Linked DNA regions of Homo sapiens: region 2 is linked to region 1. Evidence: fine-mapped expression QTL. A gene starts in region 1. The other region holds a variant in brackets. All regions are shown on one strand. Distances are from middle to middle.

Region 1 (5,220 bases):
CAGCACAGGCGTCGGTCTGGCTGGTTACCGGATCCTTCCACTGCAAGGATCCACAGTGTGAGGAAGCTTCCTTTGTGCTGTGACCCGCACTCACCTGAACACATCATTCCAATACTCCTTTACGTAGGACACTTGATGGAAAGGGATGTCTAAGATCTGGCAAACTCTGTAAGCATCTTCACAGTCTTTGTCGGCAGTACAGACCCCATGTTCATCCAGTGAGTCCCAGTTCTTCATAAACACCCCTGTCACCTGGTAACCTGCGGGCGGGAAGGTCAATTAAAGAGAATACATAAATCAACCTTCGGTAAAACGGCAGTGATTTCTGAGCTCTGAGAAGTTCCCCACACGCTGTGCTCCTGTGCCTCTGTGCCTGGCCTGCCGGGCAGTCCCTGCTTTGCCATGTGGCTTCAGGGATCCGGTTTCCATCTTGGTGCCTGAGTCCCCAAGATTAACGAGGTGGTATTTTCTCATCTTTGTGTCCCCATCTATGTATCAGCACAATACCTAGCAGGAGGGGATCAGCCAGTGTGTGTGGAATACACGAAGGAATAGTCGAAACTCAACAAAATTTTTCAAAGCACCATTCAGTTATCAAAAAAGGAAACTCTTTTCAAAAGTTATTTCTAGTTACTATCTAAGACTTAGATTCTAAGTGATCAGATATAAAGATAATTAAAATTTTCGATATTTTGTAAGAGCTGTACCACCTAGTTTATGACCTATTTTCTACCTTTTCGATTGTAACAAAATATTCACCCAAATATTGGAAAGGCCAACTTTAGCCCTACACCACCTTAGCAAACTACACAGGTGCAGACCCTGTATGAGAAAGCTGGTTCGTTTAGGTAGGCTGAATGTAATGAAAGACAGGGCAAATGACTGCTGAAGAAGGCTTCATATAGTACCCAAAACAACAGAAATTTGATGACAAAGCTTTGTCAAAACTACACCACCACACGCGAAAGACCACCCCTATCCCAGATCAACCAGACTAATGTCTACCTAACAGTCTAAAGCCCCTGGTATAGCATCTTCCATAATCAGGGCTAAACGTGCTCCAGGCTCCTCTCCTTCCATCTCCATCTGGCCAGAACCAGCCCACACTTGCAGGCCTCTGTGATTCTGCTTGCACTGCTGACTGTGCCGGGAGGGCCGCCTCCACCTCCAAGTCTCTGCTTAGTGACATCCTACTCTTCTTTCGACTCAGCTGAGCACCTCCATCTCTAGGATGCTTTCCTCCACTCTCCCTTCCTCACAACTATTTCTGCTTATGGTCCGCCTACCCTTCTCTTTGGCACTTACTGTACCTACCATAATAGCTATGGTTATTAACAATATAAACTAATAGCCACTACTGTTTTCTGCGTACCTCGTATGTGCTGAGCACGTACTCATCAGTATGTACTATGTCATCTAATCCCTCCAGTCACCCCGTGAGGCAGGTGTTAGCCGAATTTTACAGGGGACGGCTTAATTCACTTGCCCAAGGTCAGGAGCCAAAGATGGCGCAAAGCAGAGCTCCACAAACGTGACTCTGTGAATGAGGCCTCCCGCGGGGAGCCACACAGGTGAAGTTAAACAAGTGCTCATTTCAGCGCCGGGCCCGAGGAATGCTAAGCACCCGTGGGGCTCCGTTTAGATGCCGGAAGAAATGCAAATGCTCCTGGAGAAAACTTTGTCCTCCAGCGAGCGGAGAACACAGGAGACGCTGAACAAGCAGACCCGCCGCGCGGCAGTTGTCCAGTCTGCTGAGTGGGGAGGACAAGGACCTCCCACCGGGCGGCCACAGCGTGTGCAGAGGTCAGGCCCCCGGCCCGGCGATCCCAGCTCCCCTCACCAGTGTCCACGGTCTCACAGGTGAATGTGGACGCCGCAGATCCGTGAGAAACCCTTCCCTCCCCACCCCACCCCGGCCCGCCGGCTTCTCACTGTGGGTGGGCGCGCGTGGGTGGAGAGGGGCGCGGAACTGCTCCCAGGTAGTCGGAGCTGCAGTCGCGCACACCTCCGACTACACAGGTGGAGGGCGAGGAGCCTCCGAACCAAAGTCAGAGGACGGGGTATCCTCCTGCCGACCCGCGCGCAACCAGCGGCCCAGGGAGGGAGGAGACGTGCACAACGCCACGACGGACGGGGACAGGTTTCCGGGGACACATTCGCTCGGCGGGGGGCGGGAGCCTCGGACGCCTCACCTCTCCGCCTCAGCAGCAGCGCGGCCACGGCGCTGTCCACGCCGCCGGACAGGGCGCACACGACGTGCCGCAAGGCCTGCATCCGCCAGTCGCCCAACTTCGCCAGCTGCAGCTACCGCCGCTTCCGCGCCTTGCCGGAAGTCCCGCCCCGGCCGTAGGGTCCGCGCTAGTGGCCCGGCCGGAAGCTGCGGCAGCTTACCCGCGTTCCGTCCGGCCTTCCCCTGTCCCGCGGCGGGTTCCCCTGTCTCCGGCCTGCGCTCACCCCTGAGGCTCCACCGACCCGCGGGGCGCCGAGACTCTGTCGGGCCGCGAGGGGCTGGCTTTTTTTTTGAGCCGCCGCCTTGCCCTCCCCACCCGCGCCCCGGCCTCACTGCTCTTCTTCTGCGCTGTAAACCAAAAATAAAATTCTAAGCCCCCCAGCCAGCCATTGGAGGCCTCCTCTCGGCCAAGGGCGTCCTAGAGGGAACCTGAACCGCGAGTTCGGGCTCTGATGGGAAAGGCCGGGTGGGACCCGCCTCACTAGACCCTCCTCCTCCCTTTGGAATTCGGACCAGCATTAACGTCAAAACAGACTTAAGACTGTCTAGGCGGACTCTCCGTAGCAATAGGATACCGACATGACAGATGGCAGGCCCTGAAAGATATCGAAGTATTTTACAGTATTTTAATTTAATTTAATTTTTAATTAATTAAATTTTTTTGAGATGGAGTTTTGCTCTGTCGCAGGCTGGAGTGTAGTGGGCGCGACCTCGGCTCACTGCAACCTTCACCTCCAAGATTCAAGCGATTCTCCTGCCTCAGCCTCCCTAGTAGCTGCGATTACAGGCGCCCGCCACCAAGCCCAGCTAATTTTTGTATTTTTAGTAGAGACGGGGTTTCACCGTATTTGCCAGGCTGGTCTCTCACTCCTGACCTCAAGGGATCCGCCCACCTCAGCCTCCCAAAGTGGCGGGATTACAGGTGTGAGTCACTGCCCCCGGCCCAGAAAATCTTTGAATCCACCTATGACCTGGAAGCCCCACCCCACCTTCGAGTTGTCCCACCTTTCCGGAACCAATGTTACATCTTACATGTATTGATTTATGGCTTATGTCTCCCTAAAACGTACGAAACCAAAAGCTGTAGCACCACCAGTTTGAGCACGTGTTCTCAGGATCTCCTGGGACTATGACATGAATAAATATCTTCAAATCTTTTACAGTTTGACTCCAAGCATACTCAGCACTCAATCCTTAATGTCTGTGAGGTGTGTTGGACAGGGGTTTTGTGTTCTGTCCACTCCTACTCCATGCCCAGAAAAGCCCCTGGCCCAGGGCAGGTGCTTCATAACCTCGCTGAATAAAGGAAGGAGGAGAGAATGGAGGTCATCCCCCAGGGGTGATATTCAAGCTGAGTTCTTCTCTACGAGTTAGCATCTAGACAAGGTCTACCTAAAGCACAGGGAGACTCTGAACGAAAAAGATGTTCATTTGTGAATAGGGCATTGCAATGGGAATATGCATGCCACAATAAGCTATGTGGGTATTCAGGGAAGTAAAGGAAGACAAAGGTTTTTATTTTATTTATTTATTTTTTTGAGACAGTCTCACTTGGTCACTAGGCTGGAGTGCAGTGGCGTGATCTTAGCTCACTGCAACCTCCGCCTCCCGGGTTTAAGCGATTCTCCTGCCTCAGCCTCCGGAGTAGCTGGGATTACAGGCACATGCCACCACACCCAGCTAATTTTTGTATTTTTAGTAGAGACGGCATTTCACCATGTTGGCCAGGATGGTCTTGATCTCCTGACCTTGTGATCCGCCCGCCTCGGCCTCCCAAAGTGCTGGGATTACACGCGTGAGCCACAGTGCCCGGCCTAGGAAGACAAAGGTTTTTAAAGGGAAAATGAGGATCACATCATTGTTTTGAGATAATTCTTTGGCTACAAAGATCAATAACAAGGGTGACAGCACTCCAGGGTTGGACAAGCAGTTGCTGGGCAGATGTCCTTGCAACAGAAGTTTTTTGTTTTTTTTTTTTTTTTGAGGAAGGTTACGATAGCCTTTGTGTAAAGTTGTGGTTTTTGCAGTCTTTTGTGATAGTTGTTATTATTAGGCACATGTGCATGAGAACCCTCCCTTGTGGTATGAACCCAAAGTACCTGAGACAGGTTTCAATTTAGAAAGTTTATTTTGCCAAGGTTAAGGACATGCCAGTGACACAGCCTCAGGATGATGTCCTGAGGATATGTGCCCAAGGTGGTCGAGGCACAGCTTGCTTTGATACATATTAGGGAGACACAGGACATCAATTAATACGTGTAAGATGTACACTGGTTCTGTCTGGAAAGGCGCAACAACTGGGGGTGGTGGGCAGCTCGCAGGTCATAGGTAGATAAGAGATAAACTGTTGCATTCCTTTGGGTCTTTGATCAGCCTTTCACTGAATACACAATCTCCATGTGAGAGGCAGGTAGAGGAACAGTCACTGATGCCTTAGTCTGGCTCAGTGAATCTGCATTTTCACATAAACAATAGGGCAGAGGAAGCAATCAGACATGCATTTGTCTCAGGTGAGCAGAGGACTGATGGTGAGTTGTCCATTGTCTGGCATCTGTGAAGATAAGCTATCAATTTACATTGCCAGGGTGAAATTCAACAGAACTATTTTAGGGTAAAGATCTCGAGGTCCACGAGGAATTTCCAAGAAGAAAAGCAGGAACTACCAACAGGAGAGCCCTGGGGACTGGTGCCAGGAGGAGCTGCAAGACAGGAGGGAGGTCACAGGGCCTGTGGGGAAAAGGATGACCACTTTTTCAGAATAAAGGATCAGGAAAATACCCAACAGGAGGGCAATTTCATCTTGCATTTCCCGGAAGAGATAAGGAAATCCAGTATCTGGGCAGCTGAGTTTGTGCAGATTTAGAGGTACACGTTTAGGCTGTGTCTAAACTTGAGTCTGGGTCTGGGGGCAGGCCCTCCTTGGGTGTGGCAGGCTGATCTAAGGTTATGGCAGGTTAAGTCCCAGTTGCAGCCAACCCGCAAAATGGCTG
Region 2 (5,220 bases), 110 kb after region 1:
GGCAAAAGCCCGTGTCTACTAAAAATACAAAAATTAGTCGGGTGTGGTGGCTGGCACCTGTAATCCCAGCTACTTAGGAGGCTGAGGCAGGAGAATCGCTTGAACCCAGGAGGGGGAGGTTGCAGTGAGCTGAGATTGCGCCACTGCACTCCAGCCTGGGCAAGAGAGTGAGACTCAGTCTCAAAAATAAATAAATAAATAAAAAATAAATGTGAAGCACTGGTAGAACTGCTTTGGATGAAATTATTTAATAAGCTCTCTTGGTTATGTTTTACTATACATTTGTAGAAATGGCATAAAATATGAAGCACATTTTTTAATCTAAAGAAAACTTAAGTAGTAGGTATAATATTGGACTGTCACACGGCAGGCAACACCCCAAGACATGGTATAAGGTCATAGCTGTTGAAAGGAGCAGTCCTGTTATAACACGGCACCCTGGAGGTCACCCTTATGCCCAGGCTTCTGAAATGTTAAGAATAATGTTGGAATTCCTCTTTCAAAACTGGTCTTAAAAACCATGTTCAGCTGCATGTCACAAATTAGTCTCCTTGCTCAACTTTTTTTTTCTTTTTTCTGTTTTCTTTTTTTGAGACGGGGTCTTGCTGTGTCACCCAGGCTGGAGTACAGTGGCGCAACCACAGTCCACTGCAGTCTTGACCTCCATCCTCCTGCCTCGGCCTCCTGAGCGGCTGGAACCACAGGCGCACACCACCATGCCCAGCTAACTTTTCATAGAGGAGGTCTCACTATGTTGCCCAAGCCGGCCTTTCTTATTTTTTTAAACAAGACGTTTTACTCTGTTTAATCCCAACTTGCATGCCAGTCTAGCTACAATGGACTCATGGTTTGTCTAAAATTCAGTTCTATTCTCAGAGGGTAAAATCTTCCATAACTGAAGCTATTCAAAGACTTTAAGATAATCCCCAACAATTTGGAGCAATAGGAGAATCTTTGAAAAAATAACACGGCACGCCCAATTCCTACTTTCTTCATTTGAACTGAGTGTCAGTTCTGATATGTTTGTTAGATTAAAAAGTAGCAGGACAACGTTATTATCACCTTATAGTTTGAATTTCTAAAGTCCACATATTCAGTGCTAAAGAATTATTTGGTTGTTTAACTGAACACCACACTCATTTTTTGGAAGGTGCAGTTTGCTTCTTAAGCCCAAAGCAGCTAAGCCTGAGCAACAGTAAGTGTGTGTGTGAGCATGTGTGTGCACGTGTGTGTGAGCATATGTGCACACATGTGAGTGTGGGTATGCGTGTGAGCATGTGTATATATATATATGTGTGCATGCTTGTATATGTGTGGGTACGTGTGTGGGTACATGTGTGCATAAGGTGAGGGTATGTGTGTGCATATACATGCATGTGAGCATGTATAAGCACATGTGTAGTTTGTAAGTGTGTGTGTGTATGCATCTGTGTGAATGCATGTGTTTGTATGTGTGTGTATGCATGTGTGTGACTGTATGGGTGAATGTGGATTTGTGTGTGCCTGGGTGCATGTGTGTGAGCATGCATGTGTGTGTGTACACACAGGTGTGGGTACATGTGTGAGTGTGCGTGTATCCATGTGTGGGTGCATGTGTGTGTGTGCGTGTGTGGGGGTGGAGGTGCGTCTGTGTGCATGTGTGGGTGCACGTGTATGTGTGGGGGTGTGTGTGTTTACACGTGCATGCATGGATGTGTGAGTGTGTACCCATGTGAGCATGGATGCTTGTGTGCGTGTGGGTGCATGTGTGTGTCCATGTGCATGTATGGGGGTGGAGGTGCATCTGTGTACACGTGTGGGTGCATGTGTATGTGTGGGTGTGTTTGTGTACACATGCATGCATGGATGTGTGACTGTGGGTGCATGTGTGTGAGCATGCATGTGGGTGCACGTGTATGTGTGTGTACCCGTGTGTGCACGGATGTGTGAGTGTGGGTATGTGCGTGCATTTGTGCATGAGCGTGCATCACACAGAAGGCACTGACTCTGCCCAAGCCCCTCAGTCTCATTTTCTGTTGCTTCCTCCAAAGTCTTCTGACGACATTCTCAACCCCTGACAGGTCAACATCTTATGTTTTTAGACACTGTTGAAAAGCACCCATTTTTATTGCCTCCCTCAGCCCCCTGACTCTGCTTCCATCCCTGTTACCCTCAAATCAAGGGGCAGTGAGTTCCCCAGAGGCGCCCTTCCCCATCACCAAGGGCCCTGACCATTTTCTGGCCCACGGTTCTGAAATCTCAGGGGCTCAAACAGTCCCAGTGTCCAGATGGACACAGACATTCTCCATCCACCCCTCACTCCTTCCCTCAGCTAAAGCCCACCTTTCCTCAAGCAATGGCATCTATGCGGCTCCATGCAGCGGCCTCCCCCTGCCCCCACAGCCTCCTCCGTGCACCCTGGCCGGTTCCAACCCCGACCCAAGCCTCCTGGCTGATTCTAGGCCTCCCACAACTCCCCCACCGGTTTCAGGCCCCCCCCCAGCATTCTAGCCTGTTCCAGCTCAGCCATGGGGCTTTGCGTCATCTGATCTGAAGGCCACGAGCTGATCTTGACAGAAGAAAGGCATTGGCCACTGCAAAGAGAAATTCAGTCCCCCGCTTATAGCAAACCAGAGGGCTGCTTTGAAATTAAAATCTATCCATCCCCCGTGCTTCCCCATCAAGGCTTTGAACATTTCAGGGTTGCTTTCACCCCAGCAGCCCCTGCAGGGAGGAGGCGAGCCTGCCTTCCCCAGCACACAGCCCACGTTCATTACGGTTCGTATGAATCCATTAGTTTACTGGCCTGGACAGTTTACTGTGCCGCCTCTCATCCCCAAACAGAAATGAAGTCAGCCGCCGGCCCTGAGGTCAGTGTGCCTTCCTGAGGCTCTGTGGGGCGTGGCTGGGGCTGTGAGGTCACCCAGGCTGGAAACTGATGAAACGGCGACCG[C/G]ATGTGGGCCACTGGGCAGAGATCAAGGTGTTTCCAGGCCGCTGCTTGGTCTCCCTAACAGATTTCTTGCCCACAGATGGGGTTGCTTTCTGAGATGTGTAAGGGACACAGGCTATGGTCTTCCACTACCCACCTTGGCCACAAAACCAGAGCTCTGCCAATAGATTCAGGCAGTGTGGCCTGGTGGTGGGCATCCTGCCAACGGGGCCTTTTCCCAGACTAAGCAGAGAGGGTATCCTGCACCTGAAGGAGCCAGCTCTGGAAAGCCCGTCAGCAGGCTAGGCAGGGAGGAGGGGGCCGTGCCTCCAGCGTCCCGTGCGCAGACAAGGACATGGGGTGGGACGCAACCCTGGCTTGGAGCAAACAGTGTGATCAAACACAAAGAGTCACATGATGGTTGGAGGTTGCCTTGAAAACTGGTACCTGCGGTGCTCTGGCTTTGTGGGTGTGGGTGGAAGAGGGCATCTGACTCTCGGAAGAGTGCCCGGTTCTCTTTTTCTACAGAAAACCAAATTGTGAACCCCAATCCTAAACTATTCATCTATCATTTCTTTCTTTTTTTTTTTTTTTGAGATGGAGTCTCACTCTGTCACCCAGGCTGGAGTGCACCGGTGTGATCTCGGCTCCCTGCAACCTCCACCTCCCAGGTTCACGCCATTCTCCTGCCTCAGCCTCCCGAATAGATGGGACTACAGGCGCACACTGCCATGCCCGGCTAATTTTTTGTATTTTAGTAGAGATGGGGTTTTACCATGTTGCCCAGGCTGGTCTCGAACTCCTGAGCTCAGGTAATCCGCCCTCCTCTGCCTCCCACAGTGCTGGGATTACAGGCATAAGCATGAGCAACCACGCCTGGCCCTCTTTTTTTTTTTTTTTTGAGATGGAGTCTCGCTCTGTCACCCAGGCTGGAGTGCAGTGGTGTGATCTCGGCTCACTGCAACCTCTGCCTTCCAGGTTCAAGCAATTCTCCTGCCTCAGCCTCCTGGGTAGTTGGGATTACAGGTGCCCACGACCATGCCTAGCTAATTTTTGTATTTTTAGTAGAGACGGGGTTTCACCATATTGGTCAGGCTGGTCTCCAACTCCTGACCTCAGGTGATCCACCTGCCTCAGCCTCCCAAAGTGCTGGGATTACAGGCATGAGCCACCGCGCCTGGCCTATTATTTATTTCTTTAAGGCCAAAATGCAAACAGATTCCCGCCTGCTAGTTGCTGCATGTGACCCTCAGCTGAGGGTGATGGGGTTCCTAGAGCTTGGTGGTCTCCAAGGGGAGGTGCAGGAGGACTCCAGGAGTCCCATTCGCACCCCATGGTGGGGGCAGGTTGTTAGGAAGAAAGACAACTTAACTCTGCTTCGAATTTTTTTTAGAGAGTCTCGCTTTGTCGCCTAGGCTGGAGTGCAGTGGCGCGATCGTGGCTCGCTGCAGCCTTGAACTCCTGGCCTCAAGGCATCCTCCTCAACCTCCCAAGTCGCGGGGACTATAGGCATGTGCCACCATGCCTGGATAATGTTTTTATTTTTTGTAGAGATGTGGTCTTGCCATGTTGCCCAGGTTGGTTTTGAACTCCTGGGCTCAAGCCATCCTCCCATCTCAGCTTCCCAAGTACCTGGGACCACAGGCACATGCCACCATGCCCAGCTAGTTTTTTAAAAAATCATTTTTTGTAGAGACGAGGTCTCCTTGTGTTGCCTGGTCTCAAACTCTTGGATTGCCTCAAGTGATCCTCCCGCCTCAGCCTCCCAAAGTGCTGGGATTACAGTGTGAGCCACTGTGCCCAGCCTGCTTTCAATTCTGAAATCCAAGGGAGAAATATAAGCTGGCAAACAAAAGTTTTAGCCATCCCAATTTTGGGCTGTACTAATCATATCCAGGATAGAGACTCGAAGCTAAAAGTTACCTTTTCTTTCACTCTCGTAATCCAGGAAAGTTCTAATTGGGACAAGCCTCTGGAGCTGCCTAGTGTGGGTGTCTGCTGGAAACTTCTAAAATGTCTCGGCCTATTTAATTGGAGAATTCACTGAAGAATTAAAGGACTCAGTAAAGAAGAGGTTTGGTTTGTTCATGAAAGTAAGTAGCTTGTGAAATGCTTTATTTTCCTGTGACTAAAATTCCACCTTGTAATTCCCAATAAGGATTGCTTCAAGCTATTTAATACAAATTAAACCTGTTTCACCATGCTCATAGGAAAATGTCAAAGTATCTTCATTCACCAACTGAGGGCTGGCTCTTCTTTGAAGGTAGCTCTGAGATTTGTTTTGTAATGGAGACAAAGACTTATTTAACTGT

Evidence for each region. PIP is the estimated chance that this variant, and not a neighbour inherited with it, causes the effect. A credible set is the group of variants that fine-mapping cannot tell apart.
Region 2: its variant is the best candidate, but not a certain one, in a credible set for the expression of TRMU in testis (GTEx, PIP 0.84).

Annotation. Positions count from the first base shown.
Region 1 is chr22:46,332,819-46,338,038 of GRCh38, reverse strand. TRMU (tRNA mitochondrial 2-thiouridylase) reads right to left here and starts at 2,325. Exons shown (of 11, transcript NM_018006.5): 1 at 2,193-2,325; 2 at 95-260. The coding sequence starts at 2,274. RefSeq lists a silencer at 1,878-1,927 and enhancers at 1,736-2,235, 2,068-2,287.
Region 2 is chr22:46,222,232-46,227,451 of GRCh38, reverse strand. All of the region lies in intron 7 of PPARA (peroxisome proliferator activated receptor alpha), which reads right to left. Among named protein-coding and RNA genes, the nearest start is that of CDPF1, 25 kb to the left of the region's middle. The variant C/G (reference allele first, on the strand shown) is at 2,933.